Regions from separate parts of the Homo sapiens genome. Here regions 2, 3, 4 and 5 are each linked to region 1. Evidence: fine-mapped expression QTL. A gene starts in region 1. Each other region holds a variant in brackets. All regions are shown on one strand. Distances are between the middles of the regions.

Region 1 (5,107 bases):
AGGCACTTCCGTATAAGATGTCCAACTAGAGTATCATACTAATTGAATCCAAGGCAGGCAATCTTACTATCCTTAATAAATAAATTCAGGCAGTTATTTTATGACTATAGAAAGGGAAACAAATACTACTGTTAATAAGTTATGTATTATACTTTTTTATGTTTTATTAATCCAGCTTGTAGGCAAAGCCTCCATACCTTGAATTTACTTTACCTGCATTAATTAACATTTGCAAACATTCTACAGAGTTGTGATAAGCTGCTTCATGAATTGGCATCCATCCCCTGTTATCAGCAACATCGACACTTCGGCCCTTTTTGAGCAGTTTCCTTAAGACTTTAACATTGCCTTCCCTGGCAGCAAGTCCAACTGTAGAGCACGTGTCCGCGTAAGCCTCTGTAAAATCCATTTGTTTGACCAGTCTACAAAACAAGGTAGAAGGATAATACTATAGTCAATAAAACAACACTTCACTCCTAGAGGTCAGCAAATCACGGTGGGCCTGTCTAGTATCTCTCACATGACTGACGAAGAAGGGCCCACAATACAGAAAGTGACTGCCATGCCACAGTCTCTGCTGGTGCCTAAAGCAGGAAGTTTCTCTGTTTGGCAGATTGGAATTCCTTGGAAGGTTCCCACTAAAAACATGAAGGGACTTTTAAGTGTTCTATCTTTCCTCCTCTGGAAATGTTTGAGGAGTAGGCTTCTGCTCCTGTTCATACCCCACCACAACGCATTCTTTGGTGCTCCATTGATAAGAGCACCCTCTTTGGTGCTCCATTGATAAGAGCACCTCTGCTTAATCCCCAGTGTACACTACATTATGCAGAGATGGCCATTCAACTACCAGCAATGCTCAGCCTCAATATACAGCCCTCTATAGGAAACAACTAAACCCAAAGAGGCCAGAAAAGCAGTGAAAGATAGGTGTCATTCTAGTCTTCCTGCACCTGCTTGTCCTTTCCAGAAGAGGTTAAACACTCAGATTCTCTATGCTTGACCAAATAGACCCACTGACTGAGCATACTGAAACCAACAGAGAACACCATGAAGAGATGAGCCCGGTTTTCCTACATAGCCCAGAAAGTTCTTAACAGAGTTCTTGCCCACATCATCACCTCCCTCCAATGCTCACTTCAAGTTCCCCTCCAGTCAGAGTCCAGTATAGCTCTCATGTGACTCTCTCGAAGACACAATTTCTTGTTAGTGACTCTATGAAGCAGTTTGGATATGGAATACTTATTTGATTACATAACTATTGTTAATTTTCTCAGATGTGATAATGGCATCACAGTTATTAGGAGAATGCCCTTATTCTTTTTTTTTAGGGAACTTGTTCTAGGATGAATGTCCTTATTCTTATGAGACACATGTAGAGTATGTGGCAGTAAAATGTCATAACACAAGCAACTTCAAATGTTCTCCATTTAAAAGTATAAATAAAGTAAAAAGGAAGTACAGCAACTGTGCAAAATGGTAATTACTGGATCTAGATGAAAGGTATTGGTCATTACACTCTTTTTATCTGAGTTTTCTGTGTATTCAAAATTTTTCAAAAAAGAAGGGTTAGCAACCATATCAGGCAATTTGAAACCACAACTTAGAGAAAATAGGAAAAGACTTGCTTTTTTTTTTGTTTGTTTGTCTGGTAGCAGCTTCCTGCTGATTTCTTTATAAGAAAACAAATAATACCCCTTGAATCTGAGTGTTTTAGCATTCAAGATCATGGTATAAAAATCTTCAAGAAAGAACAATCACTTGGTAAGGTTTCTGTTTTCACACACAGAGACACAGCCATGATAGTCCAAGCGAATTTCCTAAACAATATTTTGCAGCAAGAGCTCTAATGAGCAGATCTTCAAAAAATTTTAGGATCCTTGACCCCTTGGAGAAACTCATGAAAGCTGTAGTTTCCCCCTAGAAAAGTGTACACCCCAAATTTTGTATACAAATTCAGGTTCCCCAGCTCGTTTCCAAAGCCTTTACAGGGGCCCCAAGTTAAGAACATTTGCCTGCTCTTTTGTGAACAAGCCAATGATAATACTAAAGATGAATAAATTTGTGTAAAATTTAAATATATAAACAATTCCCATTGAAATGACAGCTACTCTTTCACAAGCGTAAACTTCTATTGTAAACTTTCTGCTTTTATTTGAAAGGCAAAAGACTTTTTTTTCAGGACATAAAATCAAATATGAATTACATTCCTCTGGCTGCTGTTATATAGGCAAAAATCTAATTTCCAAAGCAGAACAAAACGTGTTTCTAGGTGCTTTGCTACCTGCGGTGCTGGTACACCGCCTCCGTATCTGGACACGAGTGACGACTCCTGCTCTTTTCTCCTTCCTCGGCCCCGTTAGAAATAAGCCCAGTTCCAATTTCAGAGCCAAATAGCTCCAAAAAGCATTGTGGGTATTGTAGTTTTCTGCACACGGGCACTAAAGGTAGGTTAGGGTGATTTACGGATGCTGCAAAAGAATCCATTGCTTACTACACCGAAGGTCAATGCCTCTTGACACCCTAATCAAGGAAATAAAATAAAGCTGACTGAGATCCGCTCGGAAAATCTTTCTGGATCTAAACTCCCAGTGCGCTTTGCGCCCCAAGTGGCCATCGCGCCTGCGCCCCGCGCGGCCGGTTACTCGCTTACCGGAGGCTTCAGTCCCCGGCGGCGCGGCGACAGCTAGGGTTCACGGCCACTGGGGCAGAGGAGCCGCGAGAAGATGTGGGTTTTTGGTTACGGGTCCCTGATCTGGAAGGTGGATTTCCCCTATCAGGACAAGCTGGTCGGATACATCACCAACTACAGCAGGCGCTTCTGGCAGGGCAGCACGGACCACCGCGGGGTCCCCGGCAAGGTGAGGCGCCGGTCAGCTCCCCACACTTACTGCCCCCTGACCCCTGCTCCCCAACTCCACACACAGCACCCACACCCTAGAGAACCACACCTTAGCGCTTCATGGGGCCAAAGCACATGGCTTGGGGTAACATTTCTGTAGATTTTCCCTGCCACCTGCCCGCCATCTCTAACCCAGCCCGGGCACTCCTTCCGAAGCTGCTTAAGATGCCGGTGGTTAGTCTCTAGAGACGGCGAGAAGCGCGGGCACAGGCGCACGAGCTCGCACCAGGCTGAGTGCGGAGATGGGGACTCCATCTCTCTGCAACCTCTGCCAAAAGAAAAAAAGTCCCATTGGCGGGAAGATGAATGCTCATGTCACCACAGAGTTGAAATAGTAAATCAAGTTGCAAATTCAGCTTTTTAGCAATTAAATTTGTTGGCATTTCTGCATTCTAGCCGACTTTCATGAGCTTGCGATTAAACGTGCATGTTACTTCTAGGATTTCTTTACATCTTTCAAAAGTTTTATTTTCTGACACACAGGATTGCAGAATGAGTTTCCAAAATTTTCGCTGGTTATTAAGGAACTCACTTTGGTTTTCAGTACTAGTGAAGTTAAATGAAGTTCTGGTTATATGAATAACATAGTACCAAACTCATTACTATATCCAGCATTATTTTAATGTTACTTTCTTGATGGTTCTCATAATTATAATATGAAATGTAAGTTCATTGATTCACTTTTCAGTCAGTCCTACAAAGACATTAATCTCAATATATGTATAGAGAATTAGCAGCAGCTCACTGCTTATGCAAATCAGCTTTGTACTGGCTACAAAACAACTAATCCATAAAGAAAACTAAGATTGAGGTAACTAATAATTTGGAAATTGGTCAATGGAAAGTGGAAAAGATCAAGGCGCTAAAGTAGTTTGCACCTGCTCATAAGAGAGACATGGGATTAAAATCACGAAAAGAACCTGAATTAGAAACCATTCTATCTCAACTAGAGTTGGTCAGTTAAGAACTTGGCTTTTAAGTAGACTATACTGGCCTATTGGGATGTTGGACACAGTGACCTGAAAAGGGGCAATGGCTTAGGATAAATGCACATTTACAGATCAACAGAAATGTCATGGCCAAAGTATCTCCAAGAATGTTCTAGAACAATATTCAAGACATTAAAGAACTAAGCTAAATTAAATGGCTTCTGAGTTGTCAGTTTTGGCTGGGCCCGGTAGCTCACGCCTCTGATCCCAACACTTCGGAAGTTTGAGCCAGGAGGACTGCTTGAGGCCAGGAGTTTGAGAGTTGTCAGTTTTGATATGAATATTTAAAATTGCCATTCCGAAAAGAAAACCTTTAGCCCAGGCTCCAATTATAATGACCAAGTATTAAATATTTATGTATGTGGCTATAACAACATACTTTACTAGTCTTGACGAAAATGTACAGTGTGTTACAAAACACATTGAGATATGTATGCTGTCAGAATAGACTGATGATTAGAAATTGCCTAGTCAACACAACAGTCCGTGATTCTTTAAAAGGAGAAAGGGGCTGGCCAGGCGTGGTGGTTCCCGCCTATAATCCCAGCACTTTAGGAGGCCTAGGCGGGTGGATCACCTGAGGTCGGGAGTTCAACACCAGCCTGACCAACATGGAGAAACCCCCTGTCTACTAAAAATACAAAATTAGCTGGGCGTGGTGGCGCACGCCAGTAGAGTCCCAGCTACTCTGGAGGCTGAGGCAGGAGAATCGCTTGGGAGGCAGACGTTGCGGTGAGCTGAGATTGCGCCACTGCACTCCAGCCTGAGCAACAAGAGTGAAATTCCGTCTCAAAAAAAAAGAGCTAAAAAAAGGTGTCTTTCTGATCACCTAAGACTCAGAATTCTAACTGCACTTAATACCATACATCTTAGCCCATATCTTAGCTCTATTTATTTCACATGTTAGTTTGCATTCTAGAATGACAATATAAGCTACTGGAACCAAGAATCAAGATTTCATCTTCTCCACAGCACACAGTAGCTATGCATAAATAACTTCTAATTCACTTTGAAATTGAAAATAATATGGCATTATCTACTTGACCCTCACCAATATATATATATCCTCATTGTAGCATCATCTTAAAAAGAAAACAAGTCAGAAATCTAAATGTCCAAGAACACAGGAACGTTTATAGTTCATCAATGACACAATATTATGCAACTATTAAAATGTATGAGAAGACTAACAGGAAAATTAAATGAGAAATCATAATCC
Region 2 (5,107 bases), 400 kb after region 1:
AAGAATGCTTTCAGCTGGGGGCAGGGTGACCCAATCATAATGATGATTTAGGAGGAGTCATTAATGGAATATTCAGGATGAATTCAAATGACAGACTGGAGGCTGAAACACTTGTTGGTAGGCACCGGCACTGGGTACATAGGGAAGAGAGAAGACTGCAGGAAATACAGTAAGGAAGAGAACTGGCAAAGGGACAATATAAACTGAAAATATAAACAGATTAATGAGAAGTTAAGAAAAATTAATTCATATGAATGGAAACCAGGGGTGTTTGGGACCACATTTGTCCTTTTGAGGTGCCTCTTGTGGCAAACAGCGTTTTTTTGTTTTGTTATGTTTTTGTTTTTAGTTCTGGGATACATGTGCAGAACGTGCAGGTTTCTTAGATAGGTATACATGTGCCATGGTGGTTTGCTGCACCTATCAACTTATCATCTAGTTTTTAAGCCCCACAGCCATTAGGTATTTGTCCTAATGCTCTCCCTCCTCTTGCCCCTCACCCCCGTGACAGGCCTGGGTGTGTGATGTTCCCCTCCCTGTGTCATGTGTTCTCATTGTTCAGCTCCCGCTTATGAGTGAGAACTTGGGATGTTTAGTTTTCTGTTCCTGTGTTAGTTTGCTGAGAATGATGGCTTCCAGCTTCATCCATGTCCCTGCAAAGGACATGAACTCATTCCTTTTTATGGCTGTATAGTATTCAATGGTGTATATGTGCTATATTTTTTTTTATCCAGTCTCTTATTGATGGGCATTTGGGTTGGTTCCATGTCTTTGCTATTGCAAGTAGTGAAACAGCCTTATTTTCTAACTAACCATCTTGGAGACACTGTATAGACTAGTTGATTTCAGTGGCATTACCTTGCTAACGATTTGAAGTTGATATATTATTTCACTCACATTTACCTTTTTGGTTTTGTATCTCCTTTTAGGGTCCTCTGCCTTATTTCCTGCAATCATGAATATGTTTTGAATACTGCTAGTCACAAATTCCAAAGCTGGCCATTCATTGTTAGTTAGTACTTTCAGAACAATTGTCTTAAAATTTTAGATCTAGAAGGGACCTGAGAGGTCATCTGGTCTGTCTGTCTGTCTGTCTCTCTCTTTCTCTGTGTGTGTGTCTGTCTCTCTCTGTCTCTCTCTCTTTCACTCTCTCTCTCTCTCTCTCTCACACACACACACACACACACACACACACACACACACATTAGAGACAACCAAAGTCTTCTAAGACTTGAGGCAAAGGAAAGTACACTTGAAGGCAATACTATATGATGCCCCATCCATGTTAAGATGGTTCACAGAGCTGATCTGACCTGATCATTGGTGCCTTAGACTGGAGAGGAGACTGGGTGCCAGGAGAGCAAACCAGTCTTCCTGTTAGTTTCTTCCCTACCCCTGCCCCAAGGGAAAGTCAGTGCATCTTGGACTCTGGATGAAGGAATCTTCTGGCGGAAATCTAAGGAGTTTATATATATCTATTTTAAATCAATGATTACCGGCCATTTTACAGAGGGTTATCTCTCTAAAAGTCCTAGAAACCCATGTAAGCATATTGAATCAGAGCTATTCAGCCTGACTTGTTGCAGAAAACATACTGCCTTAATCCACCAAAACACACACATGTGACACTGCATTCTAAAAGTTTGAAGTTTTACATTCAGTTTAAACAACCATCCAGCAATATCAGACCCTGGTCCATTGGCTTAGTGGTGCCTCATTCTTAATGCTCTTATCTAGGTGCAGCCTCAATTACTGCCTGGTTAGTCAGTCAAGGAAACCAAAGTGTGTGCGCTCCACTTGACCATGGTGTTGTCAGAGAGCACCCAGAGGGCCATGTAGTCTTTGATACAGCATGAGGTGATGCATTTGATTATTACCTGTGTCCTCTGGGCAAGCATTTATTCATTCCACAAATATTATAAAGTATCTGCTATATGTCAGGCAGAGTGTTGGGAACTGTGGATACAAAGATGAGTAATACAGTCTCTGCCCTCAAGGACTTGAGGAAAGATGGATGGGTAGACACAGAAGAATGTGTATACAGAATGAAGTAAGACATGGAGGATTTGATCCAGAAAACTCTTGAGACTGAATAAAGGATTTTAACTTTTGTACAAACTGAGATCCTCCTGTTTGCCCTGTCAATGCCAAGGCGACCTACATTCAGATACTGTGACTTTAAAAAAATTGCTCATTATCATGTCCACATCTCCAGTTTGGCTGACACATCTGTCCTTGTGAAATATGCCAAGCACAGGATAAGATAATCTCTGAATTTGGACCCAGTCAAGTGCTTGAGTTCGATGCCAAGATGGTTAGGCTACCTTGCTACTCACCTTGAAGATTTCTCATAATGATGGAAACTTACTTCAAGATTCTATAGCAATTTGGCTTTTGTATCCCCACCTTCCAAGCCCCCCACCTCCATTTCTTAGTCTCACATTTGCCACCCCAGTTCGCTGGCAATGCTCATCTCACAAGGCTAACAGATGCAGCTCACAAGCCAGGAGGGCAGCAGGCAGGCCCTCTTGATAAAGGACTCTTAAAATTTATTTTAATTTTTCTTTTTTTGTGTGAGGTATTTTCCAGTGAAAACCAGAAAACCTGCTGGACAAATTCTGAAAAAGCTGTAACTTTTTTTTTTTTTTAATGCTTCAGGCAATTCCATTTGATCTGGCCATCACCAAAGCTACTGGTAATCCATAGGACCCTTCCTCATGACGGCATCTATCGACCTGTGACCTTTTGCCTCCAGCTCTTACTGAACAAAAAAAGCACCCAGTGTATCACCACTCATTTCCTCAGCAGTCTGCTATATTTAGTTTGTCAAAGTGTTTTTGGATCTTGATTCAGTTATCTAACATGTTCATTGTTTCTCCTAGCTCATCAACTGAGAAATTTGATAAGGATCATTTCTATATCATTGTCCAAATAATTGAGGACAGCTTTGAACAGCACAGGGCCCAGTAGCACAGTCTAGACAACACTCTCCTCTGA[T/A]ACATTTATAATCATATCTGAAAAGATATAATGGTGGCAATCTTTTGGACACTGTATTACAAAAAATCTCAAATCCAGAGAAAAGACAGAGAATAGCGTAATACCCACATTTAGATTTCACAGTTGTAGTATTTTTCTATATTTGTATCACAAATGTTATATAGATACAGATTTTTTTTTCTGATTTGGATAAATTTGCTGTAAGAGACATTTGGGGGAGGAACTACTGAGGCATTTGAATATGGCCTGGGTATGAAAGAACGTTAAGGAATTAGTATTATATTTGTTATGTGTGATATCATCATGGTTATGTAGGAAAGTGTCTTTATTTTTTATAGCTGTATACTGAAGTATTTGGGTGAAATGTTATGATATCCATAATTTTATTTAAATACTTTGGGCTTTTATAAACAATAATTCAGAGGGAAGAGAGTTGTGTAGGAGATATCTAAAGAGGTTCAGAGAGAATGGCTAATTGTTTATCAGTCTGTGATGGAATTGTTTTGAGTTTGGAATATTTTGATAAGTTCTAAATAATAAGCCAGTTTTAAAAAATTACCACATAATATGAAAGACAGAAGTCTTCATCCTGTTCTTGGGCCCAGTGCCACCCCAGAGCCTCATTCCATCCCATTTCTCCATCCCAATTATTACTGTCATTTTTTATAAAAATTGCTTCTATATTTTGATGTACATTTCTCAAAACTGTTTTGTCAAAATATTCACTTTTTCCATTGTCTTCAGACAAAACCACTGTGTCAAATCTGCTGTGTCCAGGCCAGGCACAGTGGCTCACACCTGTAATCCCAGCACTTTGGTAGGTTGAGGTGAGCAGATCACTTGAGGTCAGGAGTTCAAGACCAGCCTGGCCAACATGGTGAAACCACGTCTCTACTAAAAAAATAAAAAAATCACCCAGGCGTGGTGGTACATGCCTGTAATCCCAGCTACTTGGGAGGCTGAGGGAGGAGAATCACTGAAACCGGGAAGCAGAGGTTGCAGTGAGCAGAGATCACGACATTGCACTCCAGCCTGGGCCACAGAAGCAGACTCCGTCTCAAAACCAAACAAAATAAAATAGAATAGAATAAAATAAAATAATAAAATAATCTGCTACATCCAAATGTCCAATAAAGGAAAAAAGCCACATGAACCGTGAGTTAGAAACCATAAAAAGTAATTGGATATTACCAAGAGAAGTGTTACTAATATAATTTCAGATACATTACGGGGATAATATTTAGACAGGTGTAGTAGAGCCATTATTGTTATATATCAGCTGAGTTATTTTAAAATAGATATAGTAATCATTGAATTAAAGAAACCCAATGAATTTTAAAAAGAGAAAGAGCAGTGAAAATGAACATACAGTATCTCTTGGGAAAATGTAAAATGGATGATAAAACAGGAAGACTGTAGAGGGTGTATTATAGATAACACATTAATTGTAATTGTATTAGAAATAGAATTTTAAGCATTGCCATTTTCTGGATAGCTGAGGATGACAAAGTCAAAATTTTTAGTGCATGCTTTCACTTAAATGGCCTATAAAATAGACAACTGAGGTGAAACACTGGTAAGATGAGCCAAAGCTTTATTTTTGGCGTCATTTTCCTTTAAACCTGTTGGGATTTGTAAAGCTTGGTTTTCCTGTCCAAAGAACCAATCAGGAGTGTTACAGAAGAATTTTTCTACCTAAATAATTTTGAACGCTATTCTTTCTAAAGTATGTTAGACTTATCGCTTACCTTTTTCCCCACAGAATGGAAGCTATTTAGCAGAGGTTGGCCTTTTTCTGATGACTCCAGTAGATAGTTTCAGCAGTGAATCTTCCAGGGCTAATTAGCATGTGTGGTGCCATTGGAGTTGCATGCTTGCGTTCTTGGGTCCTGGTGTGTTGTTCCTCTTTGTTAGGTCTGTCTGATTTTGATCTGTTTCTTTGATGCTTGGAGCACACCCATGAGAGCCTCCCCTATCCCCCTTTGACTTCAGTTTCAAATTTATGGACATTACTGAAATAAATACACACATGCTCACCTTCGTTTGGATCCTACATCAAAAAATGTGATAAACAATCCTCAGCCTCTAGAATTTTTTTTTTTAAGAGAGA
Region 3 (5,107 bases), 260 kb after region 1:
AGCCAAAGCAAGACTAAGCAAAAAGAACACATCAGGAGCCATCACATTACCTGACTTTAAACTATACTATAAGGCTATAGTCACCAAAACAGCATGGTATTGGCATAAAAATAGGCACATAGACCAGCAGAACAGAATAGAGAACCTAGAAAGCCAAGTACTTACAGCCAACTGATCTTCAACACAGCAAACAAAAACATAAAGTGGGGAAAGGACATCCTATTCAACAAATGGTGCTGGGATAATTAGTAAGCTACATGTAAAACAATGAAACTGGATTCTCATCTCTTACCTTATAAAAAAATCAACTCAAGATGGATCAAAGACTTGAATATACAACCTGAAACCATAAAAATTCTGAAAGATAACATCAGAAAAACTCTTCTAGACATTGTCTTAGTCTGAGACATCGACTTAGTCTAAGACATCATGACTAAGAACCCAAATGCAAATGCAACAAAAACAAAGATAAATAGATGGGACTTAATTAAACTAAAAAGCTTCTGCACAGCAAAAGAAATAATCAGCAGAGTAAACAGACAACCCTGACTAGGCATGGTGGCTCATGCCTGTAATCCCAGCGCTTTGGGAGGCCGAGGCAGGAATTTGAGGCTGAGGTCAGGAATTTGAGACTGAGGTCAGGAATTTGAGAGCAGCCTGGCCAACATGGTGAAACCCCATCTCCATTAAAAATATAAAAATTAGCCAGGCGTGATGGCAGGCGCCTGTAGTCCCAGCTACTTGGGAGGGTGAGGCAGGAGAATCACTTGAATGCAGGAGGTGGAGGTTGCAGTGAGCTGAGATCGCACCACTGCACTCCAGTCTGGGTGGCAGAGCGAGACTCTGTCTCAACAAACAAACAAACAGATAGACAATCCACAGTGTGGGAGAAGATCTTTGCAAACTATGCATCTTACAAAGGACTAATGTCCAGAATCTACAAGGAACTCAAATTAGCAAGAAAAAAACAATCCCATTAAAAAGTGGGCTAAGGACATGAATAGACAGTTCTCAAAAGAAGATATATAAACGGCCAACAAACATGAAAAAATGCTCAACATCACTAATTATTGGTGAAATGCAAATCAAAACCACAATATGATACCAGCAACAATAACCATAATTAAAAAATAAAAAAAAAATAGATGTTGGCATGAATGTGGTGAAAAGGGAACACTTTTACACTGCTGGTGGGAATGTAAACTAGTACAACTACTATGGAAAACAGTATGGAGATTCCTTAAAGAACTAAAATTAGATCTACCATTTGATCCAGCAATCCCATTACTGGGTATCTACCCAGAGGAAAATAAGTCATTATATGAAAAAGACACTTGCACATGCTTGTTTATAGCAGCACAATTCGCAACTGCAAAAATATGGAACCAGCCCAAATGCCCATCAATCAATGACTGAATAAAAAGAGTCATGTATCTATACCATAGAATTCTACTCAGCCATAAAAGGAAATGAAATAATGGCATTTGCAGCAACCTGGATACAATTGAAGACCATTATTTTAAATTAAGTAGGTCAGGAAAGGAAAACCAAACATCGTATGTTCTCACTTAGAAATGGGAGCTAAGTTATAAGGATGCAAAGGCATAAGAATGATACAATGGACTTTAGGGACTTGGGGGGAAGGGTGGGAGGGGAGCGAGGGATAAAAGACTACACACTGGGTACAGTGTACACTGCTTAGGTGATGTGTGCGCCAAAACCTCAGAAATCACCACTAAAGAACTTACCATGTAACCAAACATTATCCGTTCTCCAATAACAGTTTTAGGTTTACTGAAAAATTGCCAAGATAGTAGAGTGAGTTCACATATATCCTGTAGCCAGTTTCCTCTATTATTAACATTAGCATTGTTGGGGCTCAGAACATAATGTCCAGAAATAGGGTAGTTTGAAAACTGAGAAGATAGCAGAAGCAGGAGGGTCTCTTTGACCTTCTCTTGTGCCTTTCTCCCCTAAAGCAAGCCATAAAAACTAGAATTGCCTTCACCCTTTTTCTCCTCTGAAGCAGACCATAAAAACTTGGAGGGTCACTCTCTGGCCTTTTCCCTCCTTTTCCCCCAGAAGGCTGTCATGTAACAGCTGTCCTGCCCTGTATCCCAGGGAAGAAATATCAAACAGGGATGCCAAGAAGAAACTGAACAAACGAGCCTAATTCCTCCCAGTTTGTTACCATTCCATCATACCTTTTGTCTTCCAATCATACTTCAGACTATCATAAAAATACACAGTTTTTCTGGGTCTTCTCGTTTCTGAAAGCTCTCATGTCACATAAAACTTATACTAAATAATTTTGTTATGCTTTTCTCTTGTTAATCTGTCTTTTATTATAGAGGTCTCAGCCATAAACCTTGCAATGGGTGAGGAAATCTGTTCTTCTCTACATCTTGGTATATTTGTTATAATTCAGGAACCAATATTGATACATTATTGTGAATAAAAGTCCATACTTTATTCAGATTTCTTCAGGTTTTACCTAATGTCTTTTTCTGTTTCAGAACCCCATCTAGGATATCAGATTATATTTAGTCATCATGTTTCTTTCTTTCTTT[CT/C]TTTTTTTTTTTTTTTTTTTGAGACAGAGTCTCACACTGTTGTCCAGGCTGGAGTGCAGTGTCACGATCTCAGCTCACTGCTGCAACCTCCACCTCCCGGGTTCAAGTGATTCTCCTGCCTCAGCCTCCCAAGTAGCTGGGGTTACAGGTGCCTGCCACCACACCCGGCTAATTTTTGTATTTTTAGTAGAGATAGGGTTTCACCATGTTGACCAGGCTGGTCTCGAACTCATGAGCTCAGGTGATCTGCGTACCTTGGCCTCCCAAAGTGCTGGGATTATAAGCATGTGCCACCGTGCCTGGCCTTAGTCATTATGTTTCTTTGGGCTACTCTTGGCTATGGCAATTTCTCAGACTTTTTTTGTTTTTAATGACCTTGATAGTTTTGAAGACTACTCATCAGATATTTTGTAGAATGTTCTTCAACTGGAATTTGTCTAATGTTTTTCTTATTATTAGACTGGGTTTATGGGTTAAGGGGACGAGAATGTTGGGACTCAGAAACCAATACTCCAAAATATGGCATTCTGACATGCTGAATTGAAGAAAAAGCCTCAAGGTCTCTCTGACTTTCCCGGCAATTCCCCTCAGCCTCCTGGCTCTCAATCTTATTTTTCTCTCTGTAAACATGGGATGATGTTCTCTGAAGTTCCCTCATCTACTTAAAGTCCAGACCCACCAAAGAAGAAAATAGTTATTTCTGGTACCTTCTCTGAGTTTTTATTAACTGAACTCAAATCACAGGAAGAAAGACTGAAGTCTGTCAACACACCTGGATGGACAGACTTTTGTCACAAACCATTGTTTTCTCAGCAGATCCAATAGACTTTGTCCCAGGCCATTGTATGTTCTTCGGTCCCATTGAATTCCCCTAAATACCATTTACTACTCTCCTAAAATCATCCACTCTTCCCCATCTCCCTTTCCCCTAAAAAGAAGGGCATATAACCATCTGTAGTTCATTGCATAGTTGGGAAACGCTCTGTGGTTCTTCCCTGCACACGTTAATAAATTTGCACACCATTTCCCCTATTAATCTTGCTCGGCACAGTGGTTTACTTCTGTAATCCCAGAATTTTGAGAACTGGTGGCTGGAGGATCATTGAGCTCAGCAGTTTGAGACCACTTTGGGTAAGATAGTGAGACCTCATCTCTACAAAATATATATATTTTAAAAATTAGCCAGGTATGGTGGTGTTGCCTGTGGTCCCCAGCTACTCAGGAGGCCGAGGTAGGAGCATGGCTTCAGCCTGGAAAGCTGAGGCTGCAGTAAGCCATGATGACACCACTGTACTCTAGCCTAGGTGACAGAGGGAAATCCTGTCTCAGGAAAAGAAAAAAAAATCTGCCCTTTGTCAGTTGATTTTTCAGTGAACCTTCAGAGGGTGAAGAGGAAGTTTTCCCTTCACTCCTACAAAAACTACAGCGGTGGAGTACCATTTTCATCACACATATCAAGGGTACATACTACCAGCATAACCTCTCACTGTTGATGTTTACCTTGATGACCTACCTGAGGTCATATTTACCAGGTTTCTTACATTTTATTACTTTTTTTTTCCGTCCAGAGGTCATATATATACATATATATACACACATATGTATATATGTATATGTACACACACATATATGTGTATATATGTATTATGCATGAATTCATAGGGAAGTGGTTCCAGCAACTCAGGCTCCTTCCCATTGGTTCTCTCACATTGTCTTCTCTGGGTGGAGCTGACTGGTGCTTCAGTTGAATCCAGGTAACTTTCTCTTTGGCTTCCTTCTTTTTCTGATCATTTTCCTTCATGCGTTTCAGGAAATTCTCTTAGCTTGTAGAGTGCTTAAAGTGCTTAATACCCACGTTAATTCTCTTGGCAGGAATCTTGCCCTTAACTTGTTTGTTTACAACAATGCCAACAGCATGCTGGGGAACATTGTAGGCTCTTCCAGTTTAGCCATGGTGACACTTGGGGGGCATTCCTATTTGAACAGTGCCCACTCCCTTGATGTCTACAATATCACCTTTCTTACAGATTTGTTCCCAGAACCAAGCCGGGTCCGGCTGTGTTTTCTCGAGGCCCGCCAATAATGAGAAGCAGACAAACTAGGAAAGAAGGGAATTTATTGCTGTAACCAGATACAGGGAGAAGGCCCGAGATAATTCCACCAGACCAATTCAAAGTGTTACAATTTTCTTAGTGCTTATGTAGGTTGAGGTTATGAGCCCAAGACCAGTCTAATATTCACCTAAGTCTATTGGTAGCTAATTTTGTTTCAATTAGAAGGTCGGAGGCAAAAAAATGCTTGCTAAGTCTGATTAAACTGTGGGGGCCCCAGGACCTTCAAGGCCTGTCTACTGTGATACTGGAGTGATTATTTCTATCTTATCTCCTTTACGGCTTGGCCTGGCGAGCTGCCTTAGACTCTCCAATGAATCTATTCAAACAGCTGCCTCTGTTACCTTGACTCGTCTCAGATTTCGTCGACTCCTGGCACAAGGAATGTATGACTGTCTCTATTATTTTGGTTTGCTCCAGGTTAG
Region 4 (5,107 bases), 130 kb after region 1:
GAATACTGCTCCTATCATTAATCCCAAACTTTCCCTCCATCTCTTTTCCTCTTAATCTGCTTCCAAATACACAAACCGGAATATAACTTTTTGTGACATAGTCATTCATAGCCTTCCATGTAGAAAACTCCTATAGTATTTATGAAAAATGCTGTGAGAATTACAAAAATCTTTTGCACTTACAGGTTTCTTTGCTCCACACCATCTAGCAAGGTGTCTACCAAATTTTCATAGTTCCTTTAAAAAAAAGGTGAGGTATTATTTTACTATAATACTAAAATGAACATCAAAAATATAATAGAAATTCAAATTCTAGCCAATTTCACCCTCCTTCCCCACTTACTTCCCACCACCTGACTGTAAACGGCCTGATGAGAAGCAAGCCAGAATGAAAGTAGACAGGTGAACAGAGATGCTGGGAAAAGCTCATGAAAGGCTAGGAAGAGTGAACTCAACTTTTCCTGAATGGACATGCACAAGTAACTCTGTAAGTAGTAATCAATTAATTGGGAGTGGCACACACACACACACACACACACACACACACACACACACGATACACCAGGTTTCTGAAATATATTAGGTAGGCTATAAGAGTTTATTATTTATAGACATTTTAGAAAACAACAAAGAGGTATATTCATATACTAATTATAAGGCAAAGACAAAATCAAGTTAGGAAGACTCTTGCTTGAGTGTTATCAGTGAAGCATTTAAGTGCTTTGGTATCAAGAATCCAAAAACAGTTTATTAAAATCCTGATACCAAATTTGACCAATAAGTTATTACTATTATAAGAACTATTAAATGATACATCTGCTAAACTTGAATTTAGGAATTAATGACTGATGTGTACCAGTTATGTAGTTTCTGAAATATTACTACCTTAAAAAAACAAAAAAAGAAAGATAATTCACTAGAAAAAAAAAGATAGGACAGTGAAATAACTTTTTGTTTTGTTTATTTGAGACAGGGTCTTGCTCTGTTACCAGGCTGAACTGCAGGGGCACGATCTCTGCTCACTGTAACCTCTGCCTCCCAGGTTCAAGCGATCCTCCCACCTTAGCCTCCCGAGTAGCTGGGACTGTAGGCGCGTGCCACCATGCCAGGCTAAATTTTTGTTTTTTTTGTATAGACAGGGTTTCACCATGTTGCCCAGGCTGGTCTTGAACTCCTTAGCTCAAGTGATCTTCCCACCTCAGCCTCCCAAAGTGCTGGGATAACAGGCATAAGCCACCGTGCTCGGCCTTATTTTTAAGATGGTGTTTTATACCTCCATAGCTTAAAAAGGAAAAACAGGAATCTGTGTAGTAATTACTTCTCAACTTTTTTGTATTTTTTTCAGAAGTCAATGTGTAAACATCATTAAGCAGTTATGTTATACATCTATATTTTAGAGATGTTAAAAACTTACTATCGGCCAGGCGCAGTGGCTCATGCCTGTAATCCCAGCACTTTGGGAGCCCGAGGTGGGCAGATCACTTGAGGCCAGGAGTTCGAGACCCGCCTGGCCAATGTGGTAAAACCCTGTCTCTACTAAAAATACAAAAATTAGCTGGGTGTGGTGGTGCATGCCTGTAATCTCAGCTACTCGGGAGGCTGACGCATGAGAAGAGCTTAAACCCAGGAGGTGAAGGTTGCAGTGAGCCATGATCGTCTCACTGTACTCCAGCCTGGGCAACAGAGCAAGACTCTGTCTCAAAAAAAAGCCAAAACTTACTATCTATAATGTCATCTATTGAAGTACACCATTCATCAATTACCTTAGGGCATCGGCATTCTTTTCCTGTTGGCGTTTAATTCCTTCCTTAATTTTTTCTGGGCTAAGCAATATCTGGTTGATAGAGGGGTTTTTTGACTGTTGAAGTAATTCCGCTATTTCAACACATGACTTTGGAATCTTGTTAAAAAGAAAAAAGCAGGAAAAAAAATGAAGTTCTGATGCATACTACCTGAACGAACCTTGAAAATGTCATGCTAAGTGAAAGAGGCCAGACACAAAAGTCCACATATTTTACGATTCCATTTATATGAAATATCTAATAATGGGCAAATTTATTGACAGAGAAAGTGGTTTCCAGGGGTTTGGGGTATGGAAGAATGGGAAGCGACTGCTATTAGGTACTTGTTTTCTTTTGGGGTGATGAAAACATTGTGGAGGCCAGACATGGTGGCTCATCTCTGTAATCCTAGCACTTTGGGAGGTCAAGGTGAGGGGACTGCTTGAGGCCATGAGTTTGAGACCAGCCCGGGGAACACAGCAAGACCCCTGTCTCTCTCT[C/CA]AAAAAAAAAAAAACAACTTAAATTAGCTGGGTGTAGTGGTGCACACCTATAGTCCTAGTTACTAGGAAGGCTGAGGCAGGGGATGATTATGCCACTGCACTCTAGCCTTGGGGGACAGAATGAGACAGAATGAGAATGAGAAACAAAGAAAAAGGAAAATGTTCTGGAATTTGAGTAGTTACACAGCCCTGTGAATATTCTACTGTGCATATAACATGTCCATATTAAAAGGGTGATATTTATGATATGTGAATTACATCTCAATTAAAATTTTTCTTCTAAAAAATAAAGTATAATCTAATGACAGTCGCAAATAGCAACCCTATGTTTGATTTAAAAGGAATACATTTAGAACAGTGGTTTTTAAACCAGGGGAGAGATGTCAACCATAGTCACGCCAGCCAAGAGGGTGATTCTGCTGTGCTCACCCTTCTTTTACTCACCCCCATGTTCTGAGGGAGTATAAATACAGATTTGCAAGTTCCTAGAAAATCTGCTATAACTCTCAACCTAAGCACCACTGAAAGTTATATTCTTTAGTCTTTCGAGTCAAATCATTCAATTTTAGTTTTCTTCACTATAAATTACGAACCCAGTAGTCGATCTTTTGCGACTTTGGCTAGCATGGTAAACCTCATAAAATATAATTAACTCTTTGAAAAATGAAGCTGTGGGCACACACAAAATAAGGGTAAATATAACAAATCAATAACCCTTTGTGGAGCCCTGGCTGTCTCCCTACCATGCTCCAACTTGCTACTTCACCCTGTTATGTACAATAATGATCAATGAAAGTACAAAAAGCAAACAGGTAACAAACGCTTTTTTAAAAAAACACTGGACTCAAATGCCAAGAATATTATTACTGGAAAAAGGGCAAGAAAAATAAAGGGCATTTTAACAAGACAGGATTTACACTAAAACTTGAATGAAAGAATGATATTGCTTACTGTGAAGTCCAAGCCAATTGTTTCATACTGCCTATGAATCTTTTCTGCAAGATCATCAAACAATCTCACTATTGATGGCTTTTCCAGGGACATTGCTTGGCTAAGCCCTGAAGAAACAATCGCTGGCCACGTCTGTACAATACAGTCCCAATCATGAAGGTTTGCCAAGCACACACCACTGTGATTTCCAAGGAGACAGTACAAGGCACCCTGCAGAAAAAAAAATATATATATGTTTACATGGGAAATAAGAGGCATCATGTAGTTGTAGCCAATGCACCTATGTATTGGTTTTAAATGAGTATTGATTACTTAAATGCTTAATATTGGTTAGTAAAATATGTTCACACATTTAACATGTTACTTTTTAGAAATCTGAACTTGACATTTAGGTGATATCCATTAATATTTTCTCTAAGTCATTTAATAAAGAGTTTGGGACAGGTGAGGTGGCTCACGCCTGTAATTCTTGCATTTTGGGAGGCCAAATAAGGCAGACTGGTTGAGCTCAGGAGTTTGAGAGCCTGGGCAACATGGTGAAACCTCTTCTCTATAAAAAATACAAAAATTAGCTGGGCATGGTGGCACACACCTGTGGTCCCAGCTCCTCAGGAGGCTGAGGTGGGAGGATCACTTAAGCCCAAGAGGTTGAGGCTACAATGAGCCATGCCTGTGCCACTGTACTCCAGCTTAGGTGACACAGCAGGACCCTGTCTCCAAAAAGAAAAAAAGAAATTGTTCAAAGAATGGCTACTAATAAGGTAATAAAGAAATGGAAGGATGTTTCTAAGAACATATATTCCATTCTGATTTTCTTCAACTGTATCATAAAAACCACAACATGTGTCACTCTTAAAATTTTAGAGTCTGAAGTTTGGTGTTTGAAATAATTTATTAAATATTAGTTAACACCTGGTTGCTGAGTAATTTACAAAGTACATAAAAACTAAAGTATACTGCATATTTATTACTCATAAAAGTCCAATTAACCACAATGATTCTGATGACAGCAGGTATCCTTTGATGACAGCAGGTATCCTTTCTAAAGTGCTTTTTCATAAAAAGTTTTTACTATCAAAACTTTTGATTTCCAATTTACCTCACCTGATTCCAATCTAGCTTATTACTGACTTTGTATTCCACTCCTCTACAGGTTCTCTATAAGGTCACTCATAACCTCGATTTTGTTGATCTAATAGATATTTTTCTGTTTTGATTGTACTTGACCTCTCTAATTTTGTCCATTTAAACTGCTCTCATTAAGGTCAACAACAGAATAGTCAATGAGTCAAACCTACAACACTCTTGAATTATACATCTGCACCAGGGGTCAGCAAACATTTTCCATAAACGGCCAGAAAGCAAACAGCAAAGCCATTTGCTCTCTGTCTCAACTACTCTTCTCTGCCACTGTAGAGTGAAAGTAGCCATACATAATATATAAATGAATGAACATGGCTGTGTTTCAAGAAGTTTTAAAAAAGCAAGCTTTTACTTTTACAAAAGCAAGCAACTGAGCCTGAGCTATAGTTTATTGACACCTCTGTCTTACAAGCTTCATGGAAGATGTTTAGGGCTCGTCTTCATTATCTCCAAAAAACAATGACTCTACTCACTGAGTCTTCCTTCTAGAAAGACCTCTCCCTGCCTTCTGTGATTCTTCCCGATTTCTTGATACCTTTCTGACCTCTCCAGGGTCACTCAGCTCTTCTATTTGGCTTCTAAAGGAGTTTCTCAACATATGCCCCTTGGTCCTCTTCTTATTCTCCTCCTAGGCTTTCTTATCCATGCCCATAGATTTCAATTATAATCAACATACATGGAAATGGTATCTTCGGACTCAGATGTCTAACTGCCCACTTGATGGTGCTCTTA
Region 5 (5,107 bases), 29 kb before region 1:
TTATGACAAAGGTGACAATGGTTTTGGGTCCACTGAATATCCATATGGGGAAAAAAATCTTCACCCCTGTCCCACACAATACCCAATTTCAGATGGATTGCGAATTAAATTCCAGATTGGATTTAGAAACAACAAACCTTCTAAAAAAAAAAAAAAAAGAAAGGAAAAATCTACAAACTGATCTTGGAATAGAAAAATAATTTTTAATCTTCATATTAAAAGCAATAAACATAAAGGTAAATAGTGATAAATTGGACCACGTTAAAATTAAGAACTCCTTAAATCAATAAAAAGATAAATTATTTTTAAAACATGAGAAAATTTGTGCAGGAACTTCACAAAGGAGGATATGCAAATAGCTAATAAAATACATGGAAAAGTACTCACCTTCTTGTCATTCCATTAGGGAAATGCAAATGAAAACCTCAGTGAGCACCCACAACACCACCCACCAGAATATTTAAAATGAAACACAGAGTAAGTATCCGGCAGGGATGTGGTAAAAGTGGAACTATCATATCCAGGTGGTGGTGACATAAATTAATAACCTTAAAATTGGAGGCCAGGTGCGGTGGCTCACGCCTGTAATCCCAGCACTTTGGGAGGCCGAGGCAGGCGGATCGCGAGGTCAGGAAATCGAGACCATCCTGGCTAACACGGTGAAACCCTGTCTCTACTAAAAATACAAAAATATTAGCCAGGCATGTTGGCGGGCGCCTGTAGTCCCAACTACTTGGGAGGCCGAGGCAGGAGAATGGTGTGAACCCAGGAGGCGGAGCTTGCAGTGAGCCGAAATCGCGCCACTACACTCCAGCCTGGGCGACAGAGTGAGATTCCATCTCAGAAAAAAAAAAAAAAAATTGAGTAGGGCACAGTGGCTCATACCTGTAACCCCAGCACTTTGGGAGACCAAGGTGAGCAGATCACCTGAGGTCAGGAATTCCTGACCAACATGTTTAAACCCAGTCTCTATTAAAATACAAAATTAGCCAGGTGTGGTGGTGCATGCCTGTAGTCCCAAGTACACTGAGGCACAAGAATCACTTCAACCCAGGAAGCGGAGGTTGCAGTGAGCCGAGATCATGCAACAGCACTCCAGCCTAGGCAACAGAGCAAGACTCTGTCTCAAAAAAGAAAAAAATATGTCTAAAAGAAGATATTGATTTCTCTTTTTAAGATTCCCTCGCCAAATTGAATAAGCTTCAGAATTATACTTTGGGATATGACAGTATAACTGGTACTAAACTAGCCATCCATCCAAAACAATCATAAGAGTGGACAAAATATATAAGGTAACTTACTCGGGTATTAATCAACAGGCAGACAACTGTGATTCCCGAGAGAAGTGAAACACAAGAGATGAGCCCATGATCACCCCAGCTCTGTACCTGGGGACATTTCCCCGTTACGGTACAGTGAGCTGAAGTCCAAGTAGAGCAACAGTAAGGTTGGGAAAGGTGTACTCCAACCAGAGGAAAGAGGCTCAAGTGCAGTAGTAAACTGAGGAGACAGAGATTAGAATTTAAGTGGTTGAAATCTGCAGGTAAGGCCCTAGAGAAGAGTGAATTGTGCAGACAGGAGGCCTCTGTGTGGAAGTTGCCCAAGGGTCCTTGGTTCAAGCGTAGGTTGCACATGTACAAGGTAAGGCAAATAAAAACTGCTTAAGGGTCAAGAATGGAACAGAAATAATTAGAAGTCAAACACTACTGAGGGGCCATGGAACTCCTAAGACTTCTGGCTAAGTCAGAGTGATGAGACCATACTATTCCAAAAGAATGGAGATCAATCCTGGGTACTTGTGAGAGGAAGGGGAAGGATGTCTCCAAGCTTTTGTGTATGTGAAATTGTCCAGGACGTTTTAAAAAAGGAAAAAAAAAAAAAAAAAAAAGACTGCCACAAATTCTGAAGGGAATTTCAAAACGAAAATTTCGAGAACACTTTGAATATCTAAAATATTCCTAATGTGCATATAGTATACCCTGAATTTTTTAAAACACATCAGAATAAAAATCAAACTGAACACTGTCCTATTTACTCAATAATACTAAAGTGTATATTAATTGAAAAATGATTTAAAACCTAAAGAAACAGGGAGAGAGAAGAGACAAGAAATAGATAAATCCACAGCAGAATAACAACACAGTAATTAGGACAGAACTAAGCTTCATATACTGTGTACCTCTTATGGTATTTATTACAGCCTATCTTGAATTCTGGTTATTATAATATCCTCAATTAAATTGTAAGCCCATGATATCAGGAACTAAGCCTGATAGTGTAGAGGCCTGATAATCACCTAATCAATGGAGGATAATGAGAAAAATTCAGTTGTGACTTTTACCATCCTATTGATAAGCAAAACTAGTTGGCTAAGCTGGTGTTTCTTTGCTCCTTCGCCTTTTTATGTGAGACCCATCTAGGACCACATGTTAGGGCAAAGGAGATAAATATTTCAAAAATAAAACAGGACTACTGTTCAGTTAAGGATGTATGAAGAACTGCACTCATTCTGTTGCTCTCTAGAACTGTTCTCCAATATAGAAGACAGAAGCTTCATTTGGCTGTTTAAATTTTAATTTTAATTAATTAAAATGGAATAAAATTAAAATTTGA[G/C]TTCTTCAATCAAACCAGACAAACTTCAAGTGTTCAAGAGCCCCATGTGGCTAGTGACCATCATAAGGGACAATGTAGATATAGGACAATTCCAAGTTCTATTGGGTAGGACTGGTCTAGAGATTAGAATTGAATTGAATTGAAATTTAACCTAGAATACTAGGTATACCTGTCTTCAAGATACCCATTTAGCATTGGAAACAGAGAGCCAGGCGATCAGCTGCAGGTCTTGGAGTAAGTGTCAAAGACAGAAAGATAAGGTGTAATTCTAGAAGCTAGAAAAGTACTGTGGGTTCCTAGAAAGAAAAAGAAAGCAGAATCATAGTATCTGGTATTAAAAAATGGTATCCAATAGGGACCAGAGACCAAGGAAAAAGATTAAGGATGAAATAAAAGACCGCATTTCAGAAGGCAGAGCTCCAAGTGTCTGGAGTACACAGAGATATGGGAGAAAGACTTTCCCCTCTTCAATCCAAACAGGTAAGACTCCAAACAGGTAGAAGAGAAAAGCCAGAACCTCTGAGGGTAGGAACACTGCTTTTCCCACAATGGATCATATAACATAGTATGGAAGAAATCTCTAATTGTAAATGCTTAAGAAAGCAAAAATGGCATGAGAACATATCCTGCAATAATTTCTAGGGAGACATTTTCTGGTTTTGAAAAAACACCTTTTTCCATTTCCTAAATTAGAGGAAAAATGAAGCAATCTGGAAAAACATATCTTAGGTAACAAAATATTTTTGAAAACAGGAAATTGAGAAACTAGAAGCAGCCTTTGACCCACACAAAACTTTTGACCAAAATCAACTCAGTTGTGGCATGCAACATATTGAGTACAGTTACAAGCAAAGCCCCATGTGAAGATTTCATGAAAGCAAGAACTCAAAACGGGACTCTCATCTGGGAGAAATATGGTAGACCTATACATACATGTAAGTACTAAATCTAACTAGAAATAGTAAATAATGATCATTGTTTAATATAGCATTCATTAAAGAAAAAGCTTTTTTAAGGGACATTTTTTAAATGTAATTATCTTAGTGAATGCTCTTTTAGAAAAATGCTTAATGTGACTATGAGTTCTAGGGAATTACCATAACAATTCTGTACAAATTACAATTATAAACACAATTTTGTACCAAATGAAAATTACAGTGAGTTTTATCTCTATTAGCTAGAAAATATACTGTTTCATTTTTTTGTTTGTTTTGTTTTGTTCTTAAGATAGGGTCTGGCTCTGTTACCCACGATGGAGGACAGTGGCACATTCACGGCTCACTGCAGCCTCAACTTCCTGGGCTCAAGCGATGCTCCCACCTCAACCTCATGAGTAGCTGGGATTACAGGCATGCACCACCCACACAGCTCATTTTCCATTTTTTGTAGAGACAAGGTCTTGCTATGTTGCCTAGGCTGGTCTTGAACTCATGGGCTCAAGTGATCCTCCCACTTCAGCCTCCCAAAATGTTGAGATTATAGGCATAAGCCACCACACCCAGCCTAGTCTTTCATTTTGAGGCTCAGATTTTGACAATAATTCTAAAAAATGACATGGTCAGTAAGTCTGTAACGAAAAGTTTAACCACAGGCTGTCCATCTCCTCCAGTTATAGCAGCAGGCTGGCTGGCTATGCAGAAATCATCTATATATTCAATTTTACATTTGAATTATATATGAATTTTTAATGGTATCTCTACTTTTTTGAGTTCTACATGTACTCTGTTCTCCATTATGCATTTCATTTTTCTATACAATTGAACAGTAAAATTATTTTTTCATTGTATAGCTAGTTTATGTAAAACTTTTTTCCCCCACCTCTTTCATGAACCAAAAAAGGAACATTTGTAAGAACATTTATCTCCTGCAGTATTTCTCTGGTCCTGTGTTCATACTGACATCTGGTGGCACTAGAAAAGAAACTCCATTATTGCTATGACAAAGGAATTTTTTTTTCCAGTGTTGTCCATTTATTCTATGTATCCTCAAGTTTATGTTTTTCCAGCACTTTACTTATACCCAAGGCAGCAGAACAATTATTAAAATCTTTAGTCTGAAATGTAGTATTTTATTGATATACAGAATTTTTTAAAAATTATACTAAAAAGTTATATTTCTGTTTTATAAATTTCTTCATGTCTGCCCAGTGGCTAACAATCTTAAAGATGCATACTGATGGGAAAAACCATGATCTTCTGGGCAAAACTCATTATGTTAGGGATATAACAAAAACGTTGTGGCGAATATCCCAATCCAATCATCCACGTTATCACTGACATTTCTCATGGTTTCTAACAGACAGGGAGAAGTCTAATGGCCAATTAGACATCAGAGACCATATCCAGAAAAATACATCCTTCAATCAAATGAAAGTATTAAAAGACAAAAAGCTAAAATTCCACTATCCTATTATATATTGTTTATTTTTCCGTATGTCTCCCCAGCAGCAGAGTCAAGAAACATTTGATTTAGATAACACATCCCTAAACTTACA

Alleles and levels. Alleles are on the strand shown, and positions count from the first base shown. SD is a standard deviation of normalised expression in the study named. Not every link is listed here.
For the expression in monocytes of the gene that starts at base 2,641 in region 1, C is the low allele of the variant in region 4 and CA is the other (large effect, 1.7 SD a copy in BLUEPRINT).

The links. PIP is the estimated chance that this variant, and not a neighbour inherited with it, causes the effect. A credible set is the group of variants that fine-mapping cannot tell apart.
Region 2: its variant is the best candidate, but not a certain one, in a credible set for the expression of CHAC2 in T cells (TOPMed, PIP 0.68).
Region 3: its variant is the best candidate, but not a certain one, in a credible set for the expression of CHAC2 in whole blood (INTERVAL, PIP 0.61).
Region 4: its variant is the best candidate, but not a certain one, in a credible set for the expression of CHAC2 in monocytes (BLUEPRINT, PIP 0.66).
Region 5: its variant is the best candidate, but not a certain one, in a credible set for the expression of CHAC2 in whole blood (TOPMed, PIP 0.50).

The regions. Positions count from the first base shown.
Region 1 is chr2:53,765,164-53,770,270 of GRCh38, forward strand. It overlaps CHAC2 (ChaC glutathione specific gamma-glutamylcyclotransferase 2), which reads left to right and starts at 2,641. Exons shown (of 3, transcript NM_001008708.4): 1 at 2,641-2,858. The coding sequence starts at 2,724. It overlaps ASB3 (ankyrin repeat and SOCS box containing 3), which reads right to left. Exons shown (of 10, transcript NM_016115.5): 2 at 214-422. The coding sequence starts at 409. GPR75-ASB3 (GPR75-ASB3 readthrough) reads right to left here. Exons shown (of 10, transcript NM_001164165.2): 2 at 214-422. RefSeq lists enhancers at 2,613-2,962, 2,983-3,172.
Region 2 is chr2:54,164,370-54,169,476 of GRCh38, forward strand. All of the region lies in intron 3 of ACYP2 (acylphosphatase 2), which reads left to right. It also overlaps the pseudogene RNU7-172P. Among named protein-coding and RNA genes, the nearest start is that of ACYP2, 51 kb to the left of the region's middle. The variant T/A (reference allele first, on the strand shown) is at 2,998.
Region 3 is chr2:54,025,267-54,030,373 of GRCh38, forward strand. It overlaps a transcript of ACYP2 not described here and the pseudogene RPL21P30. Among named protein-coding and RNA genes, the nearest start is that of PSME4, 57 kb to the left of the region's middle. The variant CT/C (reference allele first, on the strand shown) is at 2,571.
Region 4 is chr2:53,898,118-53,903,224 of GRCh38, forward strand. PSME4 (proteasome activator subunit 4) reads right to left here. Exons shown (of 47, transcript NM_014614.3): 28 at 3,233-3,442; 29 at 1,764-1,900; 30 at 184-237. Among named protein-coding and RNA genes, the nearest start is that of GPR75-ASB3, 41 kb to the left of the region's middle. The variant C/CA (reference allele first, on the strand shown) is at 2,282.
Region 5 is chr2:53,735,857-53,740,963 of GRCh38, forward strand. All of the region lies in intron 3 of ASB3 (ankyrin repeat and SOCS box containing 3), which reads right to left. The region is part of intron 3 of GPR75-ASB3 (GPR75-ASB3 readthrough); the gene reads right to left. Among named protein-coding and RNA genes, the nearest start is that of CHAC2, 29 kb to the right of the region's middle. The variant G/C (reference allele first, on the strand shown) is at 2,614.